Linked DNA regions of Homo sapiens: region 1 is linked to region 2. Evidence: fine-mapped expression QTL. A gene starts in region 2. The other region holds a variant in brackets. All regions are shown on one strand. Distances are between the middles of the regions. Region 1 holds the start of GGT1 (gamma-glutamyltransferase 1). Region 2 holds the start of SNRPD3 (small nuclear ribonucleoprotein D3 polypeptide).

What was found. PIP is the estimated chance that this variant, and not a neighbour inherited with it, causes the effect.
Region 1: its variant is the best candidate, but not a certain one, in a credible set for the expression of SNRPD3 in whole blood (TOPMed, PIP 0.60).

The regions. Positions count from the first base shown.
Region 1 is chr22:24,592,869-24,608,437 of GRCh38, forward strand. It overlaps GGT1 (gamma-glutamyltransferase 1), which reads left to right and starts at 10,325. Exons shown (of 16, transcript NM_001288833.2): 1 at 10,325-10,659; 2 at 15,086-15,155. It overlaps LRRC75B (leucine rich repeat containing 75B), which reads right to left and starts at 205. Exons shown (of 4, transcript NM_207644.3): 1 at 1-205. The coding sequence starts at 171. RefSeq lists enhancers at 1-618, 1,668-2,638, 10,208-11,173, 11,174-12,138, 11,546-11,635 and 1 more and a silencer at 103-332. The variant C/A (reference allele first, on the strand shown) is at 6,921.
Region 2 is chr22:24,547,831-24,563,399 of GRCh38, forward strand. SNRPD3 (small nuclear ribonucleoprotein D3 polypeptide) reads left to right here and starts at 8,169. Exons shown (of 4, transcript NM_004175.5): 1 at 8,169-8,241; 2 at 9,827-9,970. The coding sequence starts at 9,845. It overlaps GUCD1 (guanylyl cyclase domain containing 1), which reads right to left and starts at 7,308. Exons shown (of 6, transcript NM_001284254.2): 1 at 7,119-7,308; 2 at 1,087-1,171; 3 at 78-243. The coding sequence starts at 7,161. RefSeq lists a silencer at 7,057-7,416 and enhancers at 7,877-7,976, 11,699-11,748, 14,083-14,584.

The sequences.
Region 1 (15,569 bases), 45 kb after region 2:
CAGGAGGCGCAGCAGCTGCCGGGCGCGCTCCGGCCGCCGCTCGCGGAGCGTGGACTGGATCTCGCGGAGCCACCGCACCCGGCGCTCGTAGGGCGCGGGCCCGCAGCCGGCCGCCGCCCCGGCCTCAGAGCCAGCCTCGGGCCCGGCCCGCCGGCCCAGCCGCGCCCCCATGGCCGCCGCGCGATGGTCGCCGAACCCACAGGAGGCCGGGCTGTCTGCGCCCCGCTCCCGGGGCCGCCCCTAGTCGCCCCGCCTCCAATCACCGCGGCCCTGCCCCGTCCGGGTCCGAAGGCTGAGCGCCCGCCCCACCCCGCGCCGGAGCGAGGCCAGTGGGTTCCTCGGTTTGGCCTGATCACACTGGAGGAGGCCCTGCTTGCGTCAGTCTTGGCGCTAGAACCCGAGGGCCTGGAGCCGCCAGGGGAGACGCGGAGCTCGGCCGAGACGAGGTGGCTTTTGGCACCTCTTTACCCTCTGGCCCCAGTGCTGACTGGGGAATAGTCGCTTTGACCGTGCAAAGAGCATTCTAGGCGGGGTGGGGGGGTTCTGCTGTGTGTGCCAGTGTTAGGTATTGCCCCCATTGCTTTTAGAAATATGCCCTGCATGGTGAATCTCCGTCTCTACTAAAATACAAAAATTAGGCCGGGCATGGTGGCTCACGCCTGTAATCCCAGCACTTTGGGGGGCCGAGGCAGGCGGAATCTAAGGTCAGGAGTTCAAGACTAGCCTGGCTAACATGGTGAAACCACATTTTTATTGAAAATACAAAAAATTAGCCGGGCGTGGTGGCGGGCGCCTGTAATCCCAGCTATTCGGGAGGTTGAGGTAGGAGAATCAATTGAACCTGGGAGGCGGAGGTTACAGTGAGCCGAGATGGCGCCACCGCACTCTACCCTGGGTGACAGAGCAAAACTCTGTCTCAAAAAAAAAAAAAAGAAAAGAAAAGAAATCTCTGCAGCTGGCAGTTGTGGTGTAGGACCTGCTCACGCTACATGGACACTCCTGCACTGGCAAATATTTACTGCCTCCTGCTTCTTGGTTTGGGGCAGGCCCCCACCTCTGACCCCAGCCTGGGAAATAAACCGGACGAAGAGTCAGGTTAACCGTTAAGCCCAGCTCTGGGCAAGCTGGCAGCAGGCGGGCTGTATCTGCCGCTGGCTTCAGTCTGCCTCCCTGACAAGGGGTGGGGGTGGCGGCAGGCAGAGTGAGATGGGGGCCCTGGCTCCTCTGAGGACCAGGGTGAGGTACGGACCCACCCAGCTCAAGGTGTATCCCACTTCCCAGGGCTCCCTCAGCAGAAGCCTAGGTCTCTGCTGCAGGCCTGCTGGGCCCCTGCAGCCCCAATCCCGGCTCTGGGACGCTCACATCTCCTGCGTGGGGAACGTTTGAGGCACTGATCTGCAGTTCCCACTTCTCTAAGCAAGGAGCACGTGTTTAGCCTGTGAGGACTGGTACCTGTTGTGCAGGAAGGGCTGAGCACTGTCCGAGGGCATATATGAGGGACGACAGCCAAGCACCCGTGTGTATGTGTGTGTGTGTGTGTGTGTGTGTGTGTGTGTGTCTGCTAATTACCCTATGAAGATTCAAGGTTCCTTCCTTTGGGTTAAGCACTGCCTGCCCAGAGATGGCAGTGGGGAGAGGGCAGGGTGCTAGGCTCTGTCATCCTGTGGGGCTGGGCCCCTGAGACAAGGCAGAGGACAGCAGGATGTCTTAGCCCCTTGACCATCCACGGACCCCCAACCCCTGCTGGAGCAGTGCTTGCACCCCCTTCTCCCCTGGCACCTGCCAGCTGGACCCAACAGCCTCTCCTCCCACTCCAGTGCAGCCAGCATTGTCCTGGGGCCACCTTGGCACCACAGGTTTCCTCCCTGGCAAACCTGCATGACGGCCTTGCGTGCCCTCCCCCAGGGCCAAGGCGCTGTTGCTGAACTGAAGTGGCAACCTACCCGGTCAGAGCTTTAAGCTGCAGCTCTGATGCCCCAGGGACCTCTCAGACCCCCCTGCCCAGAGCAGGCAGCCCGGTAAGCCCTCCTCCTCTTCCCCTGCAGCCTCAGGGCTGGAGCCACAGCTGGGAGGGCTCCCAGATCCTGACCATATCCTCCCAGAGGCTGAGCCAGGCCTGGGCACTGTCCCCTCAAATGTGAGAATACTGGGCAGGGGGAGGGGAGAAAGGAGGGAATGGAGGGCTGAGCCTGGAGGCATGAAAGGGGCAACCTAGGCAGCGGTATGGGGGAGTGCTCAGAGCTTAGAGTCCTGTGGAAGGCAGAGAACTGCCCCAGCCCCTGCCTCTCATCCCCCACCCTCTGTGTCCCTGGCCGAGAGGTTCCTGGAGGACATTTTTCCAGCAAAAGAGGGAGGGTGGTGTCTGGGCCTAGATCCTTGGATGGGCTTTTCTCTGCCTGCTTGTGGGGTGCCTAGGGCGAGTGGGCTTTTGGAGACAATTTCTGGCCTAACCTGACTTGGACAGCAGCCCCCAGAGGCACAGCTCTCCCCTCAGGCATGGGGGCATGATTCCACCTCGCTAGCCCACATGTGTTCTTCACGGAGGGCTGCTGGCCCGTCTCCCTGGGGTTACCCTGAGCAGCAGAGCTGTGTTTGTTGAGACTCCATGGGGTGGAGGGATTGCGATGTTGTCCTCTCAGTTCCCGGGGCTGATGTGGAAGCTCAAGGGCTTGCCCTGGATTCTTCAGGGTAGCCCTGCCATCCCTAGTGAGTCAGTGAGTTGGGAGGTTGGGGGCTGGAGAATCAGGTAGGGAGGACACAGCTAGACCTCAGGCCCTGATGGGAACGTACTAGGCTCCAAGTGGGACCTGCCAGGAGACAAGAATTGATGACAGCCACACCTTTGGAGTCTCAAGCCCTCTGCCACCCATGCGGTGGCCTAGTTCAAATGACAGGAACACAAGGTCCAGCTGGCCCAATGGGCAGGTAGAGGGCTGCAGCCAGGGCTGGAACTGGCCTTGCACTGCCTCTGGGCCCTTCTCTACCCACCCAGTAGTATTGTTCAAGCCCAGGAGGGAAAAAGGCCAGCTCAGGGTTAATGTTACCTCAGCAAGTAGCTGAGTGGCACTGAGCCTCCTGGTAGCCACTGTAAAGAAGGACACAGAATGGTTTGGGGGCATTCGCTAGGAGGAAGGAAGCAGATGGATACTCTATGGAGACAGAATGTCCTCTGTGTTTGCTCTACAGGAACGGGTTGTCAACCTTCTGCAGGGCCAGGAATTGTCATGAGGCTGTAGTAGGCAGCAGAGCTTGGCGGGGTGAGGCGAGATCACAGGTATAGGCTCAGGGCCTGGATTCAAATCCCCTGGGCTGCCACTTGTTGGATGTGTAACCATAGGCAGAGTAAGGACCTGCCATAGCAAATTACCACAAACTCAGTGGCTTAAAGCAACAGAATAGTTCTGGAGGCTAAAAGTCTGAAATCCAAGTATAGGCCAAGCCACACTCCCTTTGAGGACTCCAGGGGAAGATCCTTCCTTGTCTCTTCAGCTTCTGGTGGCTCCTGGCAATCCTTGGCCTTCCTTGGCTGCTGCTGCATCACTCCAGTCTCTGAAACCATCTACCCTATGTGTCTGTGTGGCCTTCACATGGCATTCCTTATTTTTGCAGTGGGGTCTCACTATGTTGCCCAGGCTGGTCTTGAACTCCTGGGTCCAAGCAGTCCTCCTGCTTCAGCCTCCCAAGTAGCTGGGATTATGAGTGAGTGCCACCATGCCCGGCTCACATGGCCTCCTTGTAATAACGCTAGTGCCTGGGTGCGGTGGCTCACGCCTGTAATCCCAGCACTTTTGGAGGCTGCGGTGGACGGACCATGAGGTCAGGAAATTGAGGCCATCCTGTCCAACATGGTGAAACCCTGTCTCTACTAAAATACAAAAAAAAAAAAAAAAAAAAATTAGCCTGGTGTGGTGACACATGCCTGTAGTCCCAGCTACTTGGGAGGCTGAGACAGGGGAATCGCTTGAACCCGGGACGCAGAAGTTGCAGTGAGCTGAGATTGCGTGGTGACTTCACTCCAGCCTGGTGACAGAGCGAGACTCTGTCTCAAAAAAAAAAAAAAAAAAAAAAGAACTGAAGCTACTGGATTTAGGGCTCATTCATTCTTTTTTTAATTTTAATTTTTTTTTTTTTTTGAGACAGTCTCACTCTGTTAGCCCAGGCTGGAGTGCAATGGCATGATCTTGGCTCACTGCAACCTCCACCTCCCAGGTTCAAGCGATTCTCCTGCCTCAGCCTTCCAAGTAGCTGGGATTACAGGTGCCCGCCACCACGCCCAGCTAATTTTTGTATTTTTAGTAGAGACAGCGTTTCACCATATTGGTCAGGCTGGTCTTGAACTCCTGACCTCAGGTGATCCACCCCTGTCAGCCTCCCAGTGTTGGGATTACAGGCGTGAGCCACTGTGCCCAACAGGGCTCATTCATTCTAATCCCGTATGATCTCATCTTAACTAATTACTTATGTAGAGACTCTATTTCCAAATAAGGTCGTGTGAGGAAAAACCAACTCAAACTGTGTTTTTTGGCCTGGCGTGGTGGCTCACACCTATAATTCCAGCACTTTGGGGAGGCTAAGGTGGGCGGATCACTTGAGGCTAGGAGTTTGAGACCAGCCTGGCCAACATAGCAAAACCCCATCTTCACTAAAAAATACAAAACAAAAATTAGCTGGGTATGGTGGCATGTGCCAGTAGTCCCAGCTACTCAGGAGGCTGAGGCAGGAGAATCGCTTGAACCTAGGAGGCGGAGGTTTCAGTGAGCCGAGATAGCACCACGGCATTCCAGCCTGGGTGACAGAGTGAGACTCCATCTCAAAAACACACACACACACACACACACAAAACAACTGTGTTTCGCCTCTGTTCTCACAAGACAATAATCATCACAGAAGACTTCTTGTAACCAAATTTGTGGATTCTCCCACACACCCAGCAAGAATCAATTCTGCAGCAGACTCCAGCTGGTGTCTTCCAATTCAACTCAATTCTGGTGCTGTCTACCTGGAGATGGCCTCAGAAACCACAGGTTGAGGGCTTGGTCCCACAAGACCAACCCCCATCCCACCAGTCACAAGTCTGGGCATTGGGAACATCTGACTAACTGGCTTCTAGTTGGGGTTCCAAGGCCCCCTCTTTGGGTTCAATTAATTTGCTAGAGTAGCTCACACAACTCAGGGAGACCTGTTTATCGGTTTATTTCAAAGGATGTTTTATTTTATTTTCTCCTCAGACATACTTTATCATCCCTTAAAGTCAGTAGCTCAAAGGAAACTTTAAAAGCTATAAATAGGCCGGGCACGGTGGCTCACGCCTGTAATCCCAGCACTTTGGGAGGTCGAGGCAGGTGGATCACTTGAGGTCAGGAGTTGGAGACCAGCCTGGCCAACATGGTGAAACTCCATCTCTACTAAAAGTACAAAATAAGCTGGGTGTGGTGGCAGGAGCCTGTAATCCCAGCTACTTGGGAGGCTGAGGCAGGAGAATCATCGGTTGAACCCGAGGGGTGCAAGTTGCAGTGAGCCAAGATCACACCTCTGCACTCTAGCATGGGCAACAGAGCGAGACTGAGACTCCGTCTCAAAAAAAAAAAAAAAAAAAAAGATAAAGGCTACAAATAAACAGTCAGATGAAGAGATACATAGGGTAAAGACTGGAAGACTCCTAAGTACAGAAGTTTCTGTCCTGGTAGAGCTGGACACATGGATGAGTTGGTTTTTTTTGTTGTTGCCCAGGCTGGAGTACAGTGGCACTATCTCAGCTCACTGCAGCCTCTGCCTCCCGTGCTCAAGTGATCCTCCCCCCTCAGCCTCCCAAGTAGCTGGGACCACAGGCATGTGCCACTATGCCCAGCTAACTTTTTTATTTTTGTAGAGATGGGGTCTCTCTATTTTGCCCAGGCTGGTCGTGAACTCCTGGGCTCAAGCCATCCACCCACCTCGCCCTCCCAAAGCGCTGGGATTATAGGCATGAGCCACTGCACCTGGCCATGGATGAGTTCTTGTTCCCCTTCCTGTCAGCCTCCACATGAAACTCCCCAAACCCTGTCCTCTTGGGCCTTTTTTAAAAAAATTAATTAAGAAATTAAAGACAGGGTCTCTCTATGTTTCCCAGGCTGCTCTTGAACTCCTAGTCTCAAGTGATCCACCCACCTCGTCCTCCCATAGTGCTGGGATTACAAGATTAGAGATGCCAGCTGTCAGGTGGCTAGGTGGATTCAGTGTAAAGTCCTAGAAGATGCATTTTAGTAAAAACAGCTAGCCACCTGACAGCTGGCATCCATCCATTCAGTGAAGATTGTTGGGCACTGTGGATACTGTGGAGGAGGCAGCAGTCGCAGCCGGCCTGCAGAGTGAGATGCAGTGCCAGAGGGCTTCAGGAGGAGGTGGCATTGTGATTGATGTCTGAAGAGTGTCTCCATGATAATGGAGTCAGTGCAAAGTCCCAAAGACTGGGAAGGAGCAAGAGGAAAGGATAGCTCATATCCAGCTGCCCCACTCCAAAAAAAAAAAAAAAAAGAGGAAAGGACGGGCACCAGCAAGGTAGGACAAGGGGGGCCTCTGGAGTGTTTTCTTCTCAGTTGGGGAGGGGTGTGCTCAGATTTGCATGCCAAGTGCCTGGGCTGCAGTAGGGAAACAGCAGAGGGGCTGGGACCTGTGATTGGGAGTCTCCAGGTGAGAGGGTTGGCCTATGGGGACTGGAGGTCAGGTGAGGCTGGTAGTGGGTTATAGAGGTGGGAGCAGCTGGACAGGCCCAGTGAGGATGCAGGGGTAGCTGCCCAGGGCTAGACTCTGGCTGCTCTGGTGGCAGTTGCTTAGCTCAGGCTTGGGCACGTCCACCTGGCGCATCTGAAACATTAGCCAGCAGGGCGCAGACTCGTCAGTGAGAGCATTCCTGAGCCCAGCATCCAAGAAGCGAGGGAGGT[C/A]GGGAAGGTGCTGCTATGAGGCAGGGGGAGGTCCCCAAAAGTCCAGGTGAGAGCATGGCATGCGTGGAAAGTGCTGCGCAGTTTTGGCATCAGTGAAGTCACAGGGGGCTGTGGGTGAACAGGTGTGCTTGGGCATGTCACCAGGGAGGCCTTGAGACAGGAGCGGGTTGGCTTTCCTGGAGATCAGGCTGTGGCATGGTGTCGGGACTGGGGCATGGACAGTCTTCCTCCACCCCCATCCCCTCCTTGGAGCTTTCAGACACTGCAGATAATTACCAGGTGATGTGATAAATACTACCTGTGGAGGGTGCCTTGGGCAGGGAGGACAGGGCGGCCAGGAGGGGGGCCCTTTGGGCCCCTGCTCTGAGCTGCTCATCAGGAAAGGGGAGAAGCTCCTACAGGCCTGGTGTTGGAGCCTAGCCAGACCCTGTGAGGCCTTGAAAGTAGGAGGTGCATTGTCTGTGCATTGTCATCTCAAGGAATCCACCCAGCAACTGTTCTAGTTATCCCTGCTCTCTAGGTAGGAGACTGAGGCTAGGAAGGGAAAGGCTGCTGTGATACCCACACTATCAGTGGCTGGGGTTGAGTTTAAACCCAGGGACTCTAGGGCCCATGCCTCTGCCATCCTGCCTCTGAGTTTTGGAGCTGGACTTGTTCCATCAAGTGCCAGGCCAGCCCTGCTGCTGGGTGCTCCCAGGCATTCACAAGCTGACAATTCTGAAGGGCCCACGCACTTGGCCATGCTTCAGTCTGTGTCCTGACATCACAGGTGGGTGCTGGAATAACAAATGCTACAAATGGCACTGGGGGTGTTGGCCAGGCTCTGGGGGCACAGGAGTTCTGCCCATGCCCACAGCTGGCCTGTGCTGACCTCCCTCCATCACAGCTGAGTAGCACCAGCACTTCCATTGAGCTGAAGTCTTCCTCCCATTCCTTCAGTGTGGTCTTTGTGGCTCAGAGAGGCTGTGGCCAGGTACAGGATCTGGAGTGGCCCCTGCTTCTCTGCTCTGTGACCTTAGACAGTGGGCAGGATCTGAGGCCAGGCCCACCTGCAGCAGGTGTTACAAAGAGGCAAATTGGCGCTTAATGTTGGTAAGAACTTGCCAGCCAACCAGAGTCCCACTATCTTTGGAGGTAGTGAGCTCCCCATTGGGGAAGGTATGTAAGCCAACCTTTCTGGGATGCTGGAAGATCAGAGAGCAAACACTTGAGATTCTGTGATCCTAATATTGAATCCAATGCTATGATGTTTGGATTTGAAGTCAGTTCTATTTAGCCAGTTTACCAAGTGTCTCCTTGGTGCAGGACACCAGGAGACACAAAATGTCCTGGATAATATTGGGTTTCTGGCTCCCAGGGGTCCCTGAGATGTTGTTCCAGCGGTTCTGGAGTATGGGCCAGGCACCGCTTGCATCTGGACCGATCCGCATTGTTCGATCATTGTGAGCCTCATGATGGCAGTTCGGGATGTCATGCCCCCATGCGCCCCCCAACCCCACCCCGCCATGGCCCTCACCATGGCCCACTCAGGGCATGAGGCTTTCTGGGTGATTGCTGGTATTCAGTGTTGTCAGCTTCTTGGACCTGTCAGTGGGGGTGGGGCTGCAATGAGATGCCAGTTGCAGGAAGTGGTTTGCACAGCCTTCCTGGTGTCATGGGTCACTCTCTTGCCGAGTGGCTTTGGGCAGGTCCCTTCCCCTCTCAGGCTGCAGGTTCCTATGCCAGGAGCTCCCTTCTTGCCCCACCAGGGCCTTGTTTTCCCAGATACAGAGGTGGGGCAGATCCCAGCCCGTTGAAACAGACTGGGCTTTGGAGGCCACAGTGGGCCCATTTCTCAGAGGGACTGTGTGGCTGGATGCTGAGCCAGGCACTGGACTGGCCCTTTGAGCCTCCTGTCTGGCCAAGGCCCCTGAGGCACTGTGGGCTGCTGGTGCCAGCACACAAGGGTGATAAGGAGATGAAAGTCACTAGGATGGTGGGGCGGCACCCGCCCCGGGCTGTGTTGGCAGCTGCCCCTGGCTGGAGGCCAGCTTGGCCCTGGAACCCTCCTCAAGGAACAAGGACACAAAAGAGCCAGCTCAGCCAGCCTCTACCTAGCACCCCAATCAGCACTCCCTTCTTCCCATGACCCCTACCCTCTGCCCAGCTCCTGTAACTGGCCAAGGAGCTAATGGACACCCACCAGGGTCTTAATGAGTGAGCCAGGGTTAATGGGTTACTGGGCCCGGTGACACATTCACCAGCCTCCCAGGGCTCTCAAAGTCCACACTGGCCTGGCCTTGAACGTCTTAGCTCGGCCACCTCCTTTTCCAGCTTTGACACCTCGGGGCTCAGGACGGGCCTAGGGTGGTCAAGAGGTCCCCTGCAGCCCTCACTTCCTGGAAAAGGCTCCATTTCCTGGCCTTCAGGCTCAGGTGGTTCCTTCCGCCTGGCAGGTCCTCCCCAAATCCAATCCCAGCTCGGGCTGGATTCCCAAGGCCCCTATTCTGGTGTCTGCCCCTTCCCTAGGGCTCTTCCCCCTGGGGTGACCATACTCTCATGCCCAGCCAGGTCAGGGCTCCTTGAGAGAAGAATCTGGAGGGGCCAGGATTTGATGGGAGAATGAATGATGGAATGAAAGAAGGAACGTAAGCGTGAGCCTTGCTAAGAGTGACAATACTGGCAGGCTGCAGACCATGTGTGGACCTCGATCTGAGGGCTTAGAGGCTTCGGCCTGCCAGCGCTGTGGGGGCACCCACCCCATCTCATTGAATGGGGCAGAGCAGGTGAGGGCATGAGATGGACAGATGGGCCTCATCCCCCTGCTTCCGTTGCCTGGGGTCCTCGGTCAGCCTGTTTGCTCAGACCCCTGAAATTGGGGGTCAAGGAAGGACCCTCCTGGATTATGTGACTCCCTTCAGTCCAGGTGACCAGGGTCCTTGGAGTGACAGCTCCTAGAGCCCCACCTGTAGTCCTGCAAGCTGGGGAGAGGGCCTGTTAGGAGAGGCATCCCCTGCCCTGGGGTTGTAGAGGTGAACTAGGCTCCTCAGACCTTGTGGGGCCTCAGATGCTTACATCTCCAGCCCCTCCTGGCGTGGGCATCTGGCTGCAGCCCAGCTCTGTGGCCCCATCTCCCAGGGAACCTTTGGTCTAATCTGCCTCCCGCTGAAACCCAGCCTCATTCAGCCCCACCGAGGCTTTCAGAGTTCAGGTCTCTCATTCAGGGTTTGAGACCCCACCGGGCTCAGAGACACCTGCAGCCTGCAGCGGTCCCAGATCACAGCCTCAGGGATGGGACCAGGAGCCAGCCCACATCCCACCTGCAGCAGTTCCTGTGCCTTTAAAGCCTCCCCTCCCCCCGCCCCGCCCCCAGGCCACTAGGGGAGGGAAGGAGGAGCTGGGTCACAGCAGGGAATCTTAGCTTGGTTTTGGTGTGCTGCTGGATGACCAGACCGGGCGTCGGGTGAGCCCAGAAGTGAGAGCAGTTGGCTGTGCCCCAGTGCTGTGTGACCCAGAGGCGCCGCTCACCCTCTCTGAGCTGGTGGACATCATAGGTGGGGAAGCTCAGGTCAGGGCACTCCCATGAGTGTCTGGAGGCCTGAGTCCCATTCTCAGCTCTGCCATATGCTTGCTGCGCTCTAGAGGAGTTCCTCTTCCTCTCCAAGCCTCGGTTTATGTACCCGTGCAGTGGGAGTGAGTTGCACTTCGGGGTGAAGGGGGCAAGACTTGTGTGGGCGCATCCTGCAGAAGGATCCCACAGGTGGGCAGAGCCCTGGGTTCTTTATCCGACTGGGTCTGGGCTGGGGGCCTCTGTTTCTTGGCTGATGAGTTTATGTGAGTTTGAGTGAGGTATGCGAGTGGGTGAAGGAGGGCTGGGGGGAGTCACCTGACTTGTGCGAAGAAGCTCTTGAGAGAGCCGTGGCTTCTTGGAATTAAGAGGAAAGAGTGCAGCATGAACAGACAGGCCCTGGAGGATCTGGCAGCCCTGAGTGGGGGCGGGGGGTCAGCTCTGGAGTAGAGCCAGAGCTGTGATGGGGTTGGGGGACCCTGTGTCCTTGGGCCATGCTTGCCTCGCTCCTGGGTTCTGTTTGTGGCTGTGGATTGGGGTGGGGCAGGGCCGGTTGTGCGAGGGGTCATTGCCCAACTCCAGGGGGCGCCTGCCACCTCTCAGCTATATATATAGGGATATATATAGTTCTTTCGACAGGTTTCCAGCAGGTAGTGGTTATTAAATCTTACTGAAGGGGTGTTTTTTCTGATTCTCGGCTCTGTGCCGCAAGGGTGGAAACTGTGAGAGACAGATTCCAACTCCACGTCTGGGTAGTAAGCATCCAGTCCAGGGCTGTAGGCAGTCCTGGGGAAGACGCCAGAGATCTGTGCATTCTCATATCGAGGGATAGCGACTCCAGGCTGGGGGCTGGCAGGGTAAGGGGTGGGTGGGTCCTGGGCTTACCCGCAGGTCTGCAGACTTCCTGGGGCCAGCTGACCTCGTAAAATCCCTTTTGTCTAAGCTTCAGTTTCCTGCCTGTGAATGGGGTTGGGGCTGTGCTCTGGTTTCACCCTTGTGGCTCTGGGGTTGTGGTGACAAAGCCATCAAGCTGGGTTGAAGGATTAACCAGGAAACTTCAGACTGGCTGCCGTGTCTACCTCTTCCTCATACTCCTCTCTCTGCTGCATCCTGGGAAGCTGCTCTGCTCAGCCTAAATGAGGCTCAGTTGTGTGTGTGCGCACGTGCTTGCACGTGTGTTGGAAGTGGGTGATACTGACACCAGAGTCTGTGTCTCTGGGTGAGTGAGGCTTGCACATTTCTCGGGACAGGGAACTCACTACCTTATGTGCCCAGGACAAGAGCTGTGGGGTCTGGAGAAGACTTCTAGGCCAGCCCCTGCAGTCCTTCCTCAGGTGACATGGCTTCCCCAGACCCACTTCCCCCTAGGTGCCCTCTCTGCATTCAGGGGGTAGAGGGCTGACTGGGACAGAATGTGACACACTCAGCATGTGAGGAAAAGCCTCCTTCATTCTGTAGGCCCTACCTCTATTAACATGTCCTTTGATAAAGTGCCTCCCCTCCTGTCTCCCCTCTCTGGAATCCTCAGCTGCTGCCAGGCTTCAGCTGTGCCCCATTGAAGGCAGCTCTGTCTCCCTACTTTCCCCAGCCCAGGGTTTTCCTTTTGGGGTCAGCTGCAGGGATCTGGGCCATCCTTTGCCCACTCAGACTTTCTTTCTGCCCACCTGCTGCTGTGAATCCTGTATGTCATATATATATATAAAATATGTAATATATTATATATTATATGTAATATATAATATATAAAGTATATTATATAATATGTATTATATTATATATTATATAATATGTAATATATTATATAATATATAATATGTATTATATTATATATTATATAATATGTAATATATTATATAATATATAATATGTATTATATTATATATTATATAATATGTATTATATTATATATTATATAATATGTATTATATATTATATAATATGTATTATATATTATATAATATGTATTATATATTATATAATATGTATTATATATTATATAATATGTATTATATATTATATAATATGTATTATATATTATATAATATTATAATATGTATTATATATTATATAATATTATATAATATGTATTATATATTATATAACAATATATAATGTGTATTATATATAATATAATATTATATAATGTGTATTATATATTATATAATATTATATAATGTGTATTATATATTATATAATATTATATAATGTGTATTATATATTATATAATATTATATAATGTGTATTATATATATAATATTATATAATGTGTATTATATATATAATATTATATAATGTGTATTATATATATAATATTATATAATGTGTATTATATATTTAATATTATATAATGTGTATTATATATTTAATATTATATAATGTGTATTATATATTATATAATATTATATAATGTGTATTATATATTATATAATATTATATAATGTGTATTATATATTATATAATATATGATGTGTATTATATATTATATATTATATGATGTGTATTATATATTATATAATATATGATGTGTATTATATATTATATAATATATGATGTGTATTATATATTATATAATATTATATGATGTGTATTATATATTATATATAATATATAATATTATATATAATATATTACATATAATATATCATATATTATATTTATATAATTTATATAATATATCATATATTATATTTATATAATTTATATAATATATCATATATTATATTTATATAATTTATATAATATATCATATATTATATTTATATAATTTATATAATATATCATATAAATATATTATATATAGTATTATATATATAAAATTATACTTTAAGTTCTAGGGTACATGTGCACAACGTACAGGTTTGTTACATATGTATACATGTGCCATGTTGGTGTGCTGCACCCATTAACTTGTCATTTACATTAGGTATATCTCCTAATGCTATCCCTCCCCGTTCCCCTCACCCCACAACAGGCCCCAGTGTGTGATGTTCCCCTTCCTGTGTCCAAGTGTTCTCATTGTTTAATTCCAACCTATGAGTGAGAACATGCATGTCTTATATGCTCTCAGGCAGAGAGGAAACTGCTGAGCAGGCCGGGGCAGGGGACAGAGCCCTGTGGCTCTCCACTTTAGACCCCTCCTGGCTGACTGCCATGGAATGCAGCCACTTAGCAGGGCCAAATCCCCTGATGTTCCTGTTGGCTGTCTAGCCTTCAGGGACAGGTCATGGGACCTTGGTTCCTGCCCTGTCATCTTCCCAGTCACCCTGATCTTCACGGGGAGGAATAGCCTGGGAAAGGACTTGGTCACAGCACCTCCACCCTAGGGCTATTGAGGATCTCACAGTTGTGTGTCTGGTGGGTTCTGTCCAGAGCCCATTTGAGAGCAGTGGATGACAGGACAGGCCTATGTGACCCAGGCAGGCAGCAATATTGGGTCAGCCTTCATGTCCCCTTCTGTCAGCTGGGGCAGCCTGGAAGCATGATTGTGGGGTAGGTGTTATGGGCACGGAATAGACCTCAGGTGGAGGCTGCAGGGGCTCTCCGGCACCGTAGACACAGCAGGCCCAGGAGCAGGGGAGGGAGCCATGACTCAGGGAGACTCTGGCCCATATCCTTGGCAGATGAGGGCCACAGGGGAATGGGCAGCACTGTCCAAAGTCCCCTGGGCTGGGTCCGCAGCTGTTCCTGGCTCAGACTTCTTGGTGGGCTGGTCAGAAACATGCAGTAACTTGGGGCAGTTACCAGGTGGCCAAGCCTGCACTGCTGGGCTCTGTGAGCTTGGGCCAGCTCAGGCCCTCTCTGGGCCCTGCCTTTCTGGGCTGTTCGGGTGGTTCCTTGGGCCTGGGGTGCTAATGTTTCTGGATGGGCAGCAGAACCAGTCTGCACTCAGGGCCCCAGGCCATGTTCCCGGAACACACCTTTAGCATTGACAGCAGCGTGTGGTGAGGCCCCTTAGGCTGGGTTCTGGTCTAGTGCCAGGGGCACCACTACTCCACCGCCTCCAGAGCCATCTCTGGGACACTGGCTGTGAGTTCAGATGTTCTGAACAGGGACAGGGAGAGCCAGAGGGAACCAGCCTGGGGCTCACTGGAGGGGCTCGTGGGCAGACAGCGCCCTTTGGAGGGAACTGAGTCTGAAAGGAAGGAAACCCTTTCCCCGGCTCATAGCACCTGCCATCCAGGGCCCTCCCAGGGCTGCGTGAACTTTAGTCACGTGGTGACAGGCCGAGTCACCATGCCAAGTCACTGTGCGCCTCCTTGCTGCTGTGACGTCAGCTTCCCCATCCTCCCAGCCAGGCTGGACCTCCGTGAGAGGCCTGCCTGTCCTGCACCCTGTGCAGATGCCTCCCACTGTCCGCCGGGGCTGCTGGGCACGCCCTGGCTGGTCTCTTGGACTAGGTAAGCTCATGAGTCCTCTGGCCGCTCCTGCTCCTTCCCTGCCTCTGCTCCTCCTCGGAGGTGGCCACCCCCAGATCCCAGTCCCAATTCGGAGGCCCCCTGAGGAGTGCTGCAGGGGGCCACAGGCGTGGCTCTGAGCCACTCTGGAGAGTGGCGGGGGGCCCAGCCAGTTCTGTGGCTGGGACTTTCCCAGGCAGACAAGTCTGTCTCTTCCTCCCCAGCGGGTGCAGCCCAGAACTGTCTTCTGAGGAAGAGGTGCTCTCCTGGGCCCCCACTGTCCCCAGGCCTCAGGTAAGCCCATCAGGGTCCCAAGGAAGGGGGTCTGGGTTTGAGGCCAACCATGGCAGCTGACCTACTTTCTAGCCTCAGTTTCCCCTAGTGTGTGCAGCTCTCACGCTGTTTGGGTGAGAACCAGGCCTCTGGGCTTGGACATTCTTTCAGTGAGTTTTTAGGGTGGAGGGATGGGAAATGGAAGCCCAGGACCTCAGCAGGGTGTCTTCCTCCGATCCGGGGACATCTGCCTGTGGGAGGCTGGGCCCACCCTCCCTTGCTGACCTGCCCTGGGAGGAAGGGACAGGGCCCAGCACTGCCTACTCCCCTCCCTGTTCTTCCCAGCAGTCTGAGCCTGGCTGGGTGTCCCCTGCTCCTCCAGCAGCCTACTTGGGCCTTTGGGTAGACAGATTAACAGACAGGCGAGGCTGGGTC
Region 2 (15,569 bases):
CTTCCAACTACTGGAACCAGGTGGCCTTATACCTCTGTGTGGCCCCACATGGGAAGGCCTGGTGGCTGGTCGCTCACCTGGTTCTTGTAGCCCTTGTCGACACCCAGGGTCTGGGTACAGAAGCGGTGCCTCACGCCAAAGTGGTGCATCAGGTAGGCCAGGTCGATGGTCCAGATGCTCCTGGTCAGCTGCAGCTTCTGCAGGGCTCTCTCAAACTCACTGTCGTCCAGCTGGCCCAGGTACCTGCAGGTAGACGAGCTGGGGAGCTCAGCTTGGTCTTGAGGGTCAACTGGTCTGAGTCACCCTCCACCCACTGGCCCAAGAGCCCCGTCACAGGTCCCATTCCCCAGAAGTCTCCCTCCTTCATCATGAGACCCTAGGTCCTGCCCACACACTGCCCAGGCTGCTTGGGGCACCGTCCTGGCTCCAGAGTTGCAGGCCTGGACTCTGCTTCTCAAATCTATTGTGTCTTGTGGGCTGTGACCTTGAGCAAGTCATTGTCTTCTCTGGCCTCTTTAGCTTCATCTCTAAAATAAGGTCCCTGATCACATCAGTGGTTTTCAAAGTTTTAGGCAAAGAACGCTTTTGTTGAATTTTCTCTTGCTGAGATTCCCAGGATGTAAAACAGATGAAGATGCAGCTGCCCTGTGGTTCCAGGAAGCCAAATGAAAAACTCTTGTACAAGGTGACGGCTACAGTCCCTCTTGGCTCTCACTGTCCAGGTTTCTGTGATATTCACACAGCCTCAGCTTAACGGTCAGCACCCCATTCTCCCAGGAGCCAGAAACTGGGGAGTGGAGGGCCTCCTATCCCAGTCACAGAACTGCCTTGTAGGACAGGCCTGGGCACCTGGGACTTCCTGGCCACCCCAAGCCCCCAGACATTACTATCATGGAGAGCTGGAAGGCCTGGTCCACCCCTTGCTCACTTTTGCAGATGGGACTAGGACCAGGTAGAAGCTTGGCCTCCTGCAAGCCCCAACCAAAGATAGCTACATGGACCATGGATCCCACCCAGGTCTCTCCCAAGCCAGAGCAGAAGATGTAGATGGGAAGCACCTGGGCCCCCAGCCCTGGCCCCACTCACCGCAGCACCATCCTGGAGCAGGCCAGGCCACAGTCCCAGTGGTAGAGCTGCTGGATGACGGGCACAGGCAGTTGCACAAAGTCCCCTGTGCAGAAACAGAGGGAGGTCACAGACCCTCAGCGCAGAGCCCACCACTCCCACCCTCATGGGAGCCAGTGTCACTGCCTCCTGCCTAGACCCTGCAGGGGCTGCTCAGGGACCTTCCCACAATCCTTCAGGAATCCCCTCAAATCCAGGCTCCTATAATAGCAGTGATCTCCCCAAAACACCGGCCAGAGCAGGTCAGCCCAACTGAAAATCCTCCAGTGAGCTGGGTCCCACATTCCTTAAGACAATACCTCCATGGCTGCTGCCCTAGCACCCTCTGCACCCTTGCCTTTGCTTGTCATAATCCCTCACACCCTGGAGGTCTTTGCACACCTGGTTCCTCTGCCTGGACATACCTGGCTTCCCAGGTGCCTGAGCTAACTCCTGCCCTTGGATGTCACTTCTCCAGTATTGCCCCTCTCAGGCCCAGTGACCCACATGTGCATTCACTTCCCACCATGCCTACTCAAAGCCCTTCTTTTGGTGGGAGCTCTGAGGAGGAGGGACAGAGTCTTTTTCTTTTTTTTCAACAGGGTCTTGCTCTGTCGCACAGGCTGGAGTGCAGTGGCATGATCTCGGCTCACTGCAACCTGCGATTCCCGGGTGGCAAGTAATTCTCCTGCCTCAGCCACCCAAGCAGCCTGTAGTCCACAGGCGTGCGCCACCATGCCCAGCTAATTATTGTAATTTTAGTAGAGATGGGGTTTCACCATGTTGTCCATGGTTCCATGGCTGGTCTCGAACTCCTGACCTCAGGTGATCCACCTCAGCCTCCCAAAGTGCTGGGATTACAGGCGTGAGCCATTCCGCCTGGCCAGCAGGGGCTGTTTTGTTTCCTGCTTTCATTCCAGGGCTGGCACATGGGAGGCACTCAGCAGATAATGTATCTGAGTTCATGAGGCCCCTGGAGGTTTGCTTGACTCCAAAGACCCCAGGACCACCAGGGTGTGAGACCATGGCCAGGAGAAGGGAACTGTCACGTAAGCTATGAAGCATATGTAATATTCTTGTGAGCTCCATCCCCCACCAACCCTGGGCGACCTCTCGGTCTGTCTTTGCCAGGCTGTGAGGTGGAGCAGAAAGGGCCTGACCTAGCGTTCCAGTCTCAACTGTGCCACTGCTGGCTGGCTGTGGGCTGGGCAGCTGACTTCCTCTTGCTGGAATGAGTCTGGCCATCCCTAAACAGGGGGACTTTGGTCTGATTCAGTCATTCAGTCAACAAATATTTCCCAAAAGCCTAGTAAGTGCCTGGTGTGTGTACTGGAGATACAGCAGTGAATGACACAAAGTCACTCTCCTGGTGGATAGCAAAAATAAGCAAACATAGCAAAATAGAGGCCTAGGCTGGGGAAAACAGTGGGGGTGTGCCTTAGAGGGGATGGGGGAACAGCATGTGCTAAGGCCCTGAGGTGGGGCAAATGGGCTTGTGGCATGCAGGACCCTCCTCCGTAGCCACCTCATGAACCTGGACAAAGTTCAGAGTCTAAAGAGGAAGAGACTTATCTCTGCTGTTACTCACTCATGACACTCATTCAGCACGTGAAAACCTTGCCCACATTGTTTCCCCATCTGGCAGGTCTCTCCTGGACTGTGTGACCAGCTCTGTGTAGAGCCACCCCAGGAGCCCTCCTGCTGTGCCAGCCCCAGTTCCCCTCACTTCCCTGTGTGCGCCAGCTAAGACGGCCACTCACTAGTCCTGGGATCTGTCCTGGCCTTTCCAACCTACCAGGCTTTGAATCCCAAGTTCCTCCCTTCCTATGTCTGACCTTCCCCAGCCTTCAAGGCCTGGCTCAGAGGCCATTTCCAGGGCCTTCCCTGATCACAGACTGGCTACACCCTTTCACTCATCTGTACTTCTCTGGGCTTGAGTTCACACTTTGCCTCCTAGGATGCGGCCCTTGCATTGAGCTTGTCTGTGCCCTCCTGTGTTGCTTATACGTTCCCAAGAGGCAGGGACCTATCACTGCTCCTGGTGTCTTTCTACTCCATGTGCAGCAGGGCCCATGGAAGGCACAATGGCATGAGCAAAGCAGGCCACCTGCTAGCTAAGTTGCCTGGCCTCTCTGTGCCTGCTTCTTCCTCTGTGAAATGGACTACCAGACGCCAGCCTGCAGGGTGATGTGAACCCTAAGGACAAGAACGTCTATAAAGCCCTTTGCAGGTGCTAATAATGTGAACCTGCCCCCAGCTGGGGCCTGGTATGCTAAGCCCAGGCTGGACTGAGGCCTCATTCTCTTCCTTCCTCTTAACCCAGATGCCTCCAAAAGATACCCAGGCCGTTCACTCAAGGCGCTCACATGTTCCCCTGCTATCACTGCCAAGGATTCAGTGGCACTGACCCCTGCCTGTCCCTGCCCCAAATTCCACTCCCAGCACCTCTCCCACCTCTACATACAGCAGCCGTAGGGATTCCCATTCAGTTTCCCACTGCTCTTGGAATAAGGTTCTCATCCCTTACCGGGGCCCTGCCTAACCTGGCCCGCCAGCCTCATCTTGGCTGCCCTCACCTGTGGTCTAGTTAACCTGTGAACTCATCAAGGCTTCATTCTACCCCAAGGCATCTGCACGTGAGGATCCCTCTGTCTGAAACTCTCTCCCGGCTGCTGTTCTCAAGGTTGTGTCCCTTCTAGTCATTCAGGTCCCAGCTCAAAATCTCTTCTTAGAGGTTTTTCTGACTAAGCCTTTGAGAAACGAGGGAACTCTCCTTCACAGCATCCTATTCGTTTCCTTCACAGTGCTTGGCAAAAGTAACAATAGCATCAAGCCACTCTCTTGAGACGGCAAGCTTCCTGAAGGCAGGTGCTATGGTATCCTCTCCAAAATTTATGTTGAAACTTAATCTCCATTGTGGTGGTATGAAGAAATGGGTGCAGAAGATATCCACAACCAAAAATATAAATAAATAAGAAGTGTGGCCTTTTGTGAAGTCAGGAGGGCTCTGCCCTCATCAGTGAACTAGTGCCTTATAAAAGGGCTGGAGGAAACTAGCATAGGCCATTTTTTTTGCCCTTCTGTTCTTCTGTCATGTAAAAGCAGTGTTCATGCCCTTTCTGTTCCTTCCACCATGTGAGGACACGTAGGTGGCACCATCTACAAGGAACAGGCCTTTACCAGACACAGAACCTGCCAGCGCCTTGATCTTGGACCTCAGAGTCTCCAGAACTGTGAAGAATTAAATTTCTAGAGCTGGGCACAGTGGCACACACCTGTAATCCCAACTACTCACGAGGCCAAGGCAAGAGGAGCCAAGGAGTTTCAGACCAGTTCGAGCAAAATAGTGAGACCTCCATCTCCAAAAAAGAAAAAAAGAAATTAAATTTCTATTGTTTCTAAATTACCCAGTCCCAGGTATTTTGTTATAGAAGCACAAATGAACTGAGACAGCAGGAAACTTGCTGATCTTGTTCACTGTTATTCTCAGTTGCTGGTGTTGAATGTTTAATAGTAACTCAATAAATATTTGCTGGAAGAAATAAACTTTTTTTAGGCCGTGCACAGTGGCTCACGCCTGTAATCCAAGCACTTTGGGAGGCCAAGGCAGGCGGATCACTTGAGGTCAGAAGTTTGAGACCAGCCTGGCCAACATGGTGAAACCCTGTCTCTACTAAAAATACAAACATTAGCCGGGCAGGGGCCAGAGCCTCTTATCCCAGCTACTCGGGAGGCTGAGGCAGGAGGATTGCTTGAACCTGGGAGGCGGAGGTTGCAGTGAGCCAAAATTACGCCACTGCACTACAGCCTGGGCGACAGAGTGAGACTCCATCTCAAAAAAAAAAAAAGGAAAAGGAAAAAAAAGAACTTTTTGTTTTCTTCTGAAACAGGGTCTCACTCTGTCGCCCAGGCTGGAGTGCAGTGGTGTGACCAGAGCTCACTGCAGCCCTGAACTCCCAGGCTCAAGGGATCCTCTGACCTTAGCCTCCTGAGCAGCTGGAACTATGGGCACACGCTACCACACCCAGATAATTAAAAATAAAATAAGCCCTCACTGTTTGCTAGGCTCTGGGGACACAAAGGTAACTAAAGACCCACCCAAGCCCTGACCCCTAGGGACTCATAAAGAGCTGAGCAGTGGGAGAGCTCTATGCAGGATGTTGTGCTGTCACGGTGAATGCCTGCCTGTTCAAGAACCCCTCACAGCAGCCACACACTGCCTTTTTGTTTTTCTCTACTCATACTGTTTCCTCCCCAGCTTTTGCTCTTGCACATCCCTTAGTCTAGGAGTGTCCAATCTTTTGGCTTCCCTGGGCCACACTGGAAGAATTGTCTTGGGCCACACATAAACTACACTATCACTAATGATAGCTGATGAGCCTTAGTCTGAAATGTTAATGTTGTCTCCATGCTCTAATCCCTCTCACTCTCAGGGCCCCTCAATATGGAGTCCTTAAAGAGGCAATGAGAATTCTTCAGTGGCAGATGGGGATGAGGTTGCATTTGCCTCCTTCCAACCCTCAGCCCAGAGTAGGCACTTAGATATGCTTGGGGAATGGAAGGCGTTTTCCAAAAAGACCTCATACCTTGAGATGCCCAGGCCTACTTGTCACTTCCCTGCTCTGCACCCCTCCTCCCCCAGGCTTCCAGACTACAGCCCTCTGTGTGAGGCTCCCTCCTTACTCTGTGGCTTGGGCTGTGACACTGACTAGCTGGGCTATCTTCTGCCAGGCTATGACTGTCCATGCCTTTCCATGTCCAGCTATAAAATGTGGCACAAGACAGCAGCTCTCTCTCAGAGACTCAGCTGCGCCTCCTCCTCTTGCCCTGCGCTCTAGAACTCCTTGATCCTGAGGCCTGGCAGGCCCCACAGGGCCATCTCCAGCCTCGGCAAGGGCGGATCGGACCTAGAGGTGCTCATGTTGGGGGTGATAAGGTTAGGCGAGGCCTTGGCATCTGTCCCCATAACAGCTTTAGCCTTCTAAACACAAAGCCACAGCCAGACGTTGCTGCCTGGAGCCAAAGGGCTGCCTGGAAGGCCCTGGCCTGAGCTCAGTTAGTGGCTGTCACTAAGGAAGGCAAGCAGTGCACTAGCCTTTAATACTTAACCCATCTCAGACTCAGTCTGCTCAGCTGCAAAAGTGCAAATCACAGTGGGCACCTACTTCACTGGTTCGTTATGAGGATTAATGAGGCACTGCATGTAAACAACTGCACGCAGCGCGCGCCTGCCTCATAGAACACTCCCTGTGAATGTAAGCCATTCCTCCTCTGAGGCTCAGGAAAGGCAAGTATCTTGTCTCAGACCACAGGGCTAGACAACTGGAGGAGGAGGGTTGTAAATCCCCCACCAACTCCACACAGCAGACACAAAAGGGAACACTCCCTGGGAGTGACACCTGAAGGTCAGGGTCCCACATGCTGTTGACCTCTTCCACAGTTGGCACTTCACTTCAGAGTTTACTAGCTAGAACTCCGTTTGTCATCAACCCCGCGCCTTCAGCAGGACAGGAATCACGTCTTCCCCCTCCCCTACGTCTTGGGCAAGCAAACTAACGGCCAAGACATTGAATACCAGTCCGGGTCTCCGCCCCAAAGGGGCTCAGGCTACCGCGTGGCAGAGAGAACGAAAGTGAAGAACAAGAGCAAGACAAAACGCCGAGTCTCGGAGGCCAGGGCACTGGCCCTTCCATTGCTCGGTGCTCTCGGCCAGTTTCCTGCCCTTCCCAGCCTCAGTCCTCCACGGTTTCCCAAGGCATGGGAGCTCCCAAGGCGGCTCCAGCAGGACTTTTCGCTTCTGGGGAAGGTGGTGCCCCTGCTACCCGGACCTTCCCACCATGCTGACAAGGGTCGCAATCCTGCGAGTGTCAGGAAACCCCCACTGACTGGAACCAGGCGGGTGTGGGGGCGAGGCGGGAGTCGGCCCAAGGTCGCGCGACTGGACCCTGCCCCGCGCTAGGGAGGGGTCCCTTTCGTTCCTAGGGTGAAGACTGGGCCCACAGAGAGGCACTGACCGGGCTCGAGCGGCGGCCCCGCTGCCTCCGCCTCCGTCCTCATGACCCGGGCGGCGCGGGGCGCCCATGGCCCCGGCCCAGAGCGGGCTACAGCTTCCGCTTCGGCTGGGGCGGGAGGGCGGTCGGTGCGTGTCGAGTTCCTTCTCCGCCACCGCCGCCGCTGCGGAGGAGAGAACGGGAGGCGGCGGCTGGGCCGCCCCAAGCGCCGCCCCAGCCCTTCCAGGTCTCGAATCTGGAGGCCCCGCCCCCTCCTTAGGCCCCGCCCCAAACTTTGATCTTAGAGGTCCCCAGCCTCTTGATTTAAGTCTGCTCCGGCCATTCGCCGCCTCAGCGTTGAGTGGCCCCACCCTCTCGCCCAATCCTCGCGCAGACGCGCAGCTCACCAGGACGCGGGCCCCGGAAGCCCCGCCCCTTTCTTTGAGCCCCGCCCCAAAGCTCGTGCATTTCCTGAATAGAGGCTCGTCCCTTCGGCAAGCCCCGCCTCTGCCGGGTCCCGCTCTTTTGCCAGTCCTAGGTGTAAGCCCTGATCCCGCCCAGTGCATCCCCGAGGCCCCAAGCAACTCTCCTCCAACTGTCTTTAGGGATAACCCTGAGCGGGCAGCCGCTCTACTCTATACCTAACTTTATCCGTACCAGATACCTAGCCTCACTCAGGGCCCCCCTTACCTGGCGGTGCCGGGATCAACAAATGAAATTGTGACGGGAAGTCCTGGCCCTTGGCCCAACCTCCTGCTGTCCCCGGTCTGAGGGCCCAAGCCCCGCGTCTCCGCCTTGCCGTCCAGCCTGTCCTTGGTGTGGGGTGCTTGGAAGTGTGAGCACCCTCTCTGGCTCTTTGCCGGCCCCAAGGGTCGTTGCGGCGGCCCCCGGGCCCAGTCATCAGCCCTCTTTTCCGGTGCCGGAACTATCGTACTGGTGCCCTAGTTTCCCAGCCGGCAGGCGGAGTGAGGAGGAAGCGGAGGCGAGACCGCGCTCAACACTGGGGAAAGGAAGGAGGCGGGCCCTGCGCGCAGCATTTTGGGAAAGAGTGGAATTCTGGGTGTTAGGCCCGCCATTCGCTTGACTCACGCCTTCGCCGTAGCATCTTTCGCAGCGGACCGAAGAGAAGAAAAGTAGGCCAGAGCCGGTGAGGCTGGGGACGGGCGAGGGGAGGTCGAGGCGCCTGTGAGGGGCCAGGGGCTGGAGAAAGACTTGCTGCATGGAACTCTGCGGGGCTCGGGGAGGGAAGAAAGCGGGAAGCTTGGGCCACCCAAACATCAGCGTCGCCTCACTAGCTCCTGGAAGTAAGTTCATTAGCTTTCCCCTCAACGTGCATGCTTCTCACATTCTGTATCTCTCCAGGTGAGTGTTTTTCAAAGCTTCCAGGCAGTAATCTCGAAGTCATTTCTGATTGACTATCTCCTTCCCCCAAATCCTATGAGTTTTTTTTTGTTTTTTTTTTTTTAAGTAGAGACGGGGTTTCACCATGTTGCCCTGGCTGGTCTCGAACTCCTGGGCTCAAGGGATCCACCGGCCTCGGCCTTCCAAAGTGCTGGGATTACAGGCGTGAGCCACCGCGCCCAGCCGGTCATTTTTTAAAAAGTTCTTTGTATCTCTGCCCCAGTCCCCTTTCAGGCAATGGTCCCCTCATGCTTTCCACACTGTTGCAGCAGTTTTAACTGTTGCAGAAGTTTTAACAAGTTTCTCTGCTTCTAAACCTTACGTTCTATCCATTTTGTAAATAAATGCTGCTATCTTTTCATTGCGTCATTCTTTACATATAATTCTGCAGTGGTTCTCCACTACCTTCAGCATAAAATCTAGACTCCTAAGGCTGAAAGCCAGGGATCCTCACCAAAGGAGCCTGTCCTTTCAACCTCATGTTCTCCTGTCTTAGGTACGCTTAAGTTGAAACTTAGAGTTGTTGCTCATCTCAATAAAAAGTTCACTGCTTGATGCTTTTGATTAGGTCAAGTCAGGTGCTTTCCCTGATTTTCCTCCATGACAAGCATTTCCTGCATATAGCACGTTGTCACTTTGATATTTTCTCAATATCCTTGATAGTAAAATAAGTGAAGGGTTAAAGGGCTGAATTAAAAGTACAGCCTGCTCTCCTAGATGTGCATGGTCCTTTGGTCTGTATCTGCACCTTCCATAGGGTAGCCACTAGCTACATGTGGCCGTTGAGGACTTGGAATATGGCCACTGGGATTGAGGGACTGGGTTTTTTTATTTTAATTCTATTGTGTTTTAGTTAAGTTTAATTTAAATAGCTACGTGTGTACATGAGCTGCTGTATTGGACAGCTCGGGCCTGTATTATTCTCAAAACGTAATCATCTACAATTAAGGGTTAACAAATAACAGTGCAACAAATTAACATTCCAGTCCCCCTCCCCTGACACACACAGTATTGGCTAATGGTCCTTTAGCTGAAGATTAAGGGACATAGGGTAGCGGGGACACATGACCCATGGGAGATGCTCTCTTTTCATTCCTAGTTTTACTTCTGTCCATCCCATCATTCCTCCTCACCCCACATCTTGCACATATTTGCCAGATAGTTTCCTCCAAACCAGGAGCTGAGCTTTTTTTTTTTTCCTTGGTAGAAAATGCAGCTTTGGTGTTTTTGCTAAGTTTTATGGAGTGCCAGGCCTTAAAGGAAGCATGATGTGTGCCACATGCCTTTTCAGACTCTGAAAGATGAACTGACTGTTGTCTCTCTCATTGTAGAACTCTCTTCCTGCCAAGATGTCTATTGGTGTGCCGATTAAAGTACTGCATGAGGCCGAGGGCCACATTGTGACATGTGAGACGAACACCGGTGAGGTATATCGGGGGAAGCTCATTGAAGCAGAGGACAACATGAACTGCCAGGTATTCTGCTTTGCATGTGAGGCTGTGTGGGAGGAATGGCCCTGTGTCTTGAAGGACAGAAAAGTGTGTGTTGAGGGTCTCTGGAAATTGTTCTCATTCAGCAGTGATTTCCTAAGTGCCTAATGCATACCAGTCAGGTGCTGTTATAGGCTCTGGGGGTGTGGGCATGAACGAGACACATAATCTTGAGGCAGAAAAGCCATTTGGAGGTTTGGAATATTTTACTTTGTCCTTTTTGTTTTTTCCATCCCCAAATATGGGGGTCTATTTGGGAGAAGTGCTACTTCCTTCAGTAGAATCCTTCAGATTCAGGGCCATTATCCATTTGCCTCCACTTGCTTTGCGATTAGCAGAATCTTCTCACCTACTGTATTTGTTTCCCTTTTCTCTTGGAGGAGGAGTCTCATTTGATTATTGCAACTACCTTGTGAGGTAAGCAGGTTTGGTGATAGTCTTGTCATCCATAAAATAGGGAGAATGAGATTAAAGGGCTCATCACTCTGATGATAAATAATGGAGTAGTTTCCTGATATGGTGTCCTTCTCATGGCACAACTTTGCCTTTTGCATAGTCATCTGAATTTTTATAGCATTGTTTTTCAGTTGTATCTTCACACTTTCTTTGTTCTTTAAACCACTGGTTAAGAACTTGGACTTGGGAGTCAGAGAGAGATGTGGGTTTGAATCCTAATTATATGACTTTAGATGTATTAACCACTCAGTTTTCTCATCTGTAAAATGGGGGTGGTATTATGTTGGGTTCTTTGATGTAGATGCCAAGACAGAATTTTGCAAGGTATTTATTGGGGGAAATGACAATAAAGGATAAAAGAGCAAGGAAGCAGTAGTAGGCAGGGAAATTTTCAGTCTATGGTGCTGGTCTGACTGGTGAAATGAGAGGGGAAAGGAAGGAGGATTGAGCAGGAAGAGCCTTAGACTACAGCGTAGTTTTGAGGAAATCTCAGCAAGGCAGCGATTGCTCGTTAGAAGAGTCTAGCATGGGGCAGAAATGGGCGGACTGGCACCCCCGGTGTGTTCAGGCTGGCAACATGGGGAGAGAGTAGCCTCAAGTTGAATGCCATGGTGGACTGCAAAGATGGAGATTGTCGGCTGCCTGCACTCCTCATAGCCTGTTCTCTTTTGAAGGGAGATGTGAGCAGCACACCCTTAAGACTGCCACAGGGGTAATATCCACACCCCCAGGACTTTTACAAAGATCAGATGAGCTGTATGTGTGCCATAGCTGCTCAGTGCCTCACATACTGTGAGTGTTCAACATATGATACCTATTGCTTTTTTCCAGATGAGAAGGTCAGAGAGGTAAAGCACCTTACACCGCGGTCAGGCATCCTGACCATCCATTGGTTTGCAGGGTTCATTTATTTGTGATTTTTCTGTAGCTTTGAGCGTCTGTCATCTTCCTGCGAGGTTGACAAGCTTGGTCAGTTCCCTGAATGCAGAGAAGTAGACCTCTGGTGACTCAGGTTTATTGCATTACTGTCAATAGATCAGTTTATCTATTGAGGGTAGATAAGTTTATCATCTCTCATATATCCAGTCCTCTGGCTTAAGGCATGCTCATCCACTTTAAGGTTCTTTAATTTGGTGAGGAGAATGCAAGACTTGGGTTAGTGAAGCTTAATGGGTTTGTTCAATTAGCTGTATGTATTTGGACAACTTGCTGGGTTTCCAGGGCCTTTGTCATCCCATCCGTAACGTGAAGGTGTCTAACCAGATAACCTTGGTAGCCATTCAGAGATGCAGTCAACATGACACAAAGTGCACAGACCTTGGTGTCCGACAGACCTGGAATCAGCTTGTAGCCTGCCCCCTAGGGTGACTTGGGGCGAGCTTAGCTTTGGACCTCCTTCATCCTCTGGTCCCTCCTCTAAATCAGGGATAAAAATAGCACCTTGGCCTCAGAAGGAACCATGCCTGACCAATGGTGGGGGACAGCCACCTGCCTCCCTGCTTGTATTTGTATGCTAGTGCTACCATAACAAAGTTTCACAGACTGGGCAGCTTAGACAACACAAATTTATTTTCTCATAGTTCTGAAGGCTGGAAGTCTGAGATCAAGGTGTTGGCAAGGCTGGTTTCTTCTGAGGAATGTGAAGGAAGGATCTGTTTCAGGCCTCTCTCCTTGCTTATATATGGCTCTCTTCCTGTGTCTTCACTTGGTCTTCCCTCTGTAGTGTTTCTGTCCAGATTCTTCTTATAAGGATACCATGCATGTAGGATTAGGGCCCACTCTAATGACTTCATCTTAACATAATTATGTTTATAAAGAATTTTTTTTTTTTTTTTTTTGAGATGGAGCCTTGCTCTGTCACCCAGGCTGCAGTCTTGCTCTGTCACCCAGGCTGGAGTGCAGTGGCGCGATCTTGGCTCACTGCAACCTCTGCCTTCCAGGTTCAAGCGATTCTCCTGCCTCAGCCTCCTGAGTAGCTGGGACTACAGGCATCTGCCACCATGCCCAGCTAATTTTTGTATTTTTATATTTTTAGTAGAGACAGGTTTCACCATATTGGCCAGGCTGGTCTCGAACTCCTGACCTTGTGATCTGCTCGCCTCGACCTCCCAAAGTGCTGGGATTACAGATGTGAGCCACCATGCCCAGCTTGCTTGCTTTTTTTTTTTTTTTTTTTTTTTTTTTTTTTTTTTTTTGAGAGTCTCACTCTGTCGCCCAGGCTGGAGTGCAGTGGCATGATCTCAGCTCACTGCAACCTCTGCCTCCTGGGTTCAAGCACTTCTCATGCCTCAGCCTCCTGAGTAGCTGGGACTATGCCCAGCTAGTTTTTCGTATTTTTAGTAGAGATAGGGTTTCCCCATGTTGCCCAGGCTGGTCTCAAACTCCTGAGTTTGCCTCAGCCTCCCAAGTGCTAGGATTACAGGCGTGAGCCACTGCACCTGGCCTTTTTTTTTTTTTTTTTTTTTTTTTTTTTTGAGACAGAATCTTGCTCTGTTGTCCAGGCTGGAGTACAGTGGCACAATCTCAGCTCACTGCAAACCTCCGTCTTCCCGGGTTTAAGCAACTCTCTTGCCTCAGCCTCCTGAGTAGCTGGGGTTATAGGCATGGGCCACCGTACCCCACTAATGTTAATATTTTTTGTATTTTTAATAGAGATGGAGGCTCATCATGTTGCCCAGGCTGGTCTCTAACTCCTGAGCTGAGGCAATCTGCCCACCTTGGCCTCCCAAAGTGCTAGGATTACAGGCATGAGCCACTGCACCCAGCCTTTTTTTTCTTTTCCTTTTTCTTTTCTTTTTTTTTTTTTTTTTTTTTTTTTGAGATTAAGCTTTGGTCTGTTGACCAGGCTGGGGTGCAGTGGTTTGATCATAGCTCATGGGCAGCCTTGGACTTCTGGGCTCAAGAGATCTTTTCACCTCAGTCTTCTAAGTATCCAGGACTACCAGTGTGCCCCACCATACCTGGCTAATTTTTAAATTTTTTTGTAGAGACGGAGTCTTGATATGTTTTTCAGGCCAGTTTCAAACTCCTGGCCACAAGTGATCCTGCTGCCTCAGTCTCTCAAACTCCTGGAATTACAGGCATGAGCCACCACATCTGGCCTGTAAAGATTTTTTGTCTCTAAATATGATCACATTCTGAGGTGCTGGGTATTAGGACTTCAACAATGAATTTTTTTGAGGGATACAATTTAGCCTGTAACAGGATGTAGAGGCCTCACTGGGTCTATCAAAACCTAGGCACATTGAATAAGAGCCAGCAGACTGTGGCGTAGCTAAAGCTGGTGGTGGGTGAACTCTGAGCACAGTTTAGTTTGTTCAGCACATCTCAGGCTGTGAGGCTTGCCTGTCCTTCCCAGATCCAGTCATTCTGCCTTTTGGGAATGAGAACATCCTCTTAGCACTTTTCCTTGCTTGTTCAATAACATTTTCTGTTATAAAAGTGGGGTGGGACAAAATGTGGTGGCTACTCCTATAATCCCAACACTTTGAGAGGCTGAGGCAGGAGGATCACTTGAGCCCAGGGGTTCAAGACCAACCTGGGCAACATGACAAGACTTTGTCTGTAAAAAAAATAAAATAGACGGATGTGGTGGCACATGCCTGTAGTCCCAGCCATTCAGGTGGAGGCTGAGTTGGGACGATTACTTGAGCCCAGGAAGTCAAGGCTGCAGTGAGCTATGGAGTGCCACTGCACTCCAGCCTGGGCGACGGAGTGAGACCTAGTCTCACACACACACAAAAGCACACCACAACGATTCGGAAAAGATAAATAGAGGATCTCACTCTGTTGCCCAGGCTAGTCTTGCACTCCTGGACTTAAGCGATCCTCCCACCTTGGCCTCCCAAAGTATTGGAATTACAGGCCTAAGCCACACCTGCCCTGTTTTGGGGTTTTAGTATTTACTTTTTATTCTATCCTCTTTCAGAAATAGTTAGACCCTGTCTCTTCTGAAAAGCAAAAAAGTTTAAAAATTATCTGGATGTGGGGCTGGGCACTGTGGCTCACGCCTGTAATCCCAGCACTTTGGGAGGCTGAGGCGGGCAGATCACGAGGTCAGGAGATTGAGACCAGCCTGGCTAACACGGTGAAACCCTGTCTCTACTAAAAAAAATACAAAAAATTAGCCAGGTGTGGTGGCGGGCGCCTGTAGTCCCAGCTACTCGGGAGGCTGAGGCAGGAGAATGGCGTGAACCCAGGAGGCAGAGCTTGCAATGAGCCAAGATCGCGCCACTGCACTCCAGCCTGGGCGACAGAGCAAGACTCCATCTCCAAAAATAAAAAATATATTATCTGGATGTGATGGCTTATGCCTGTAGTCCCAGCTACTCCATAGGCTGAGGCAAAAAGGATCACTTGAGCCCACCCAGCAGTTCAGGCTGCATTAAGCTCTGGTCGCACCACTGCACTCCAGCCTGGGTGACAGAGCAAGACCCTATCTCTAAAATTAAAAAAATTCTATGGCAGGATAAAAGTAGATGCATAGATCATGGTGCAGGTAAGCTGGGGTAGAATGTAAAATGAAGCCAAGCAGTCAGTATCCAGAAATGTAAACCTGAATCTCTCTGTACATTGAATAAAGGTATATTCCAGTGTAAGATTAAGCAGGGAAGATCATCAGTTCCAAAATGCATAGTGTTCTTAAGTTAAAATAGCAATTGTGTGGATTTCCCTGGCACTCAGATACAGGAGACACTATTAGATGATATCCTCGACAACATCCCCATACAAAATACCCTTTTATGGTCCCTCAAGTAGTTTTAAAGTATCCTGTTATCTTAGCACTGTTTTTGACATTTGAAAATGCAAAATATGGCCAGGCACATTGGCTCATGCCTGTAATCCCAGCACTTTGGGAGGCTGGGCCAGGGGGATCACTTGATCCCAAGAGTTTGGGACCACCCTGGGCAACACAGTGAGACCCTGTCTCATATATGTGTGTGTGTGTGTGTGTGTGTGTGTGTGTGTGTGTATGTGTGTATGTATGTATATATGTATGTATATATATGTGTGTGTGTGTGTATATATATATATATTTTTTTTTTTAAAGGAAGAAGAGGAAATATGTGTATGTGAAACTCAGGATGAGGTCCCTGAAATGGTGCTTATCGGGTCAGAGGGTGTGCAT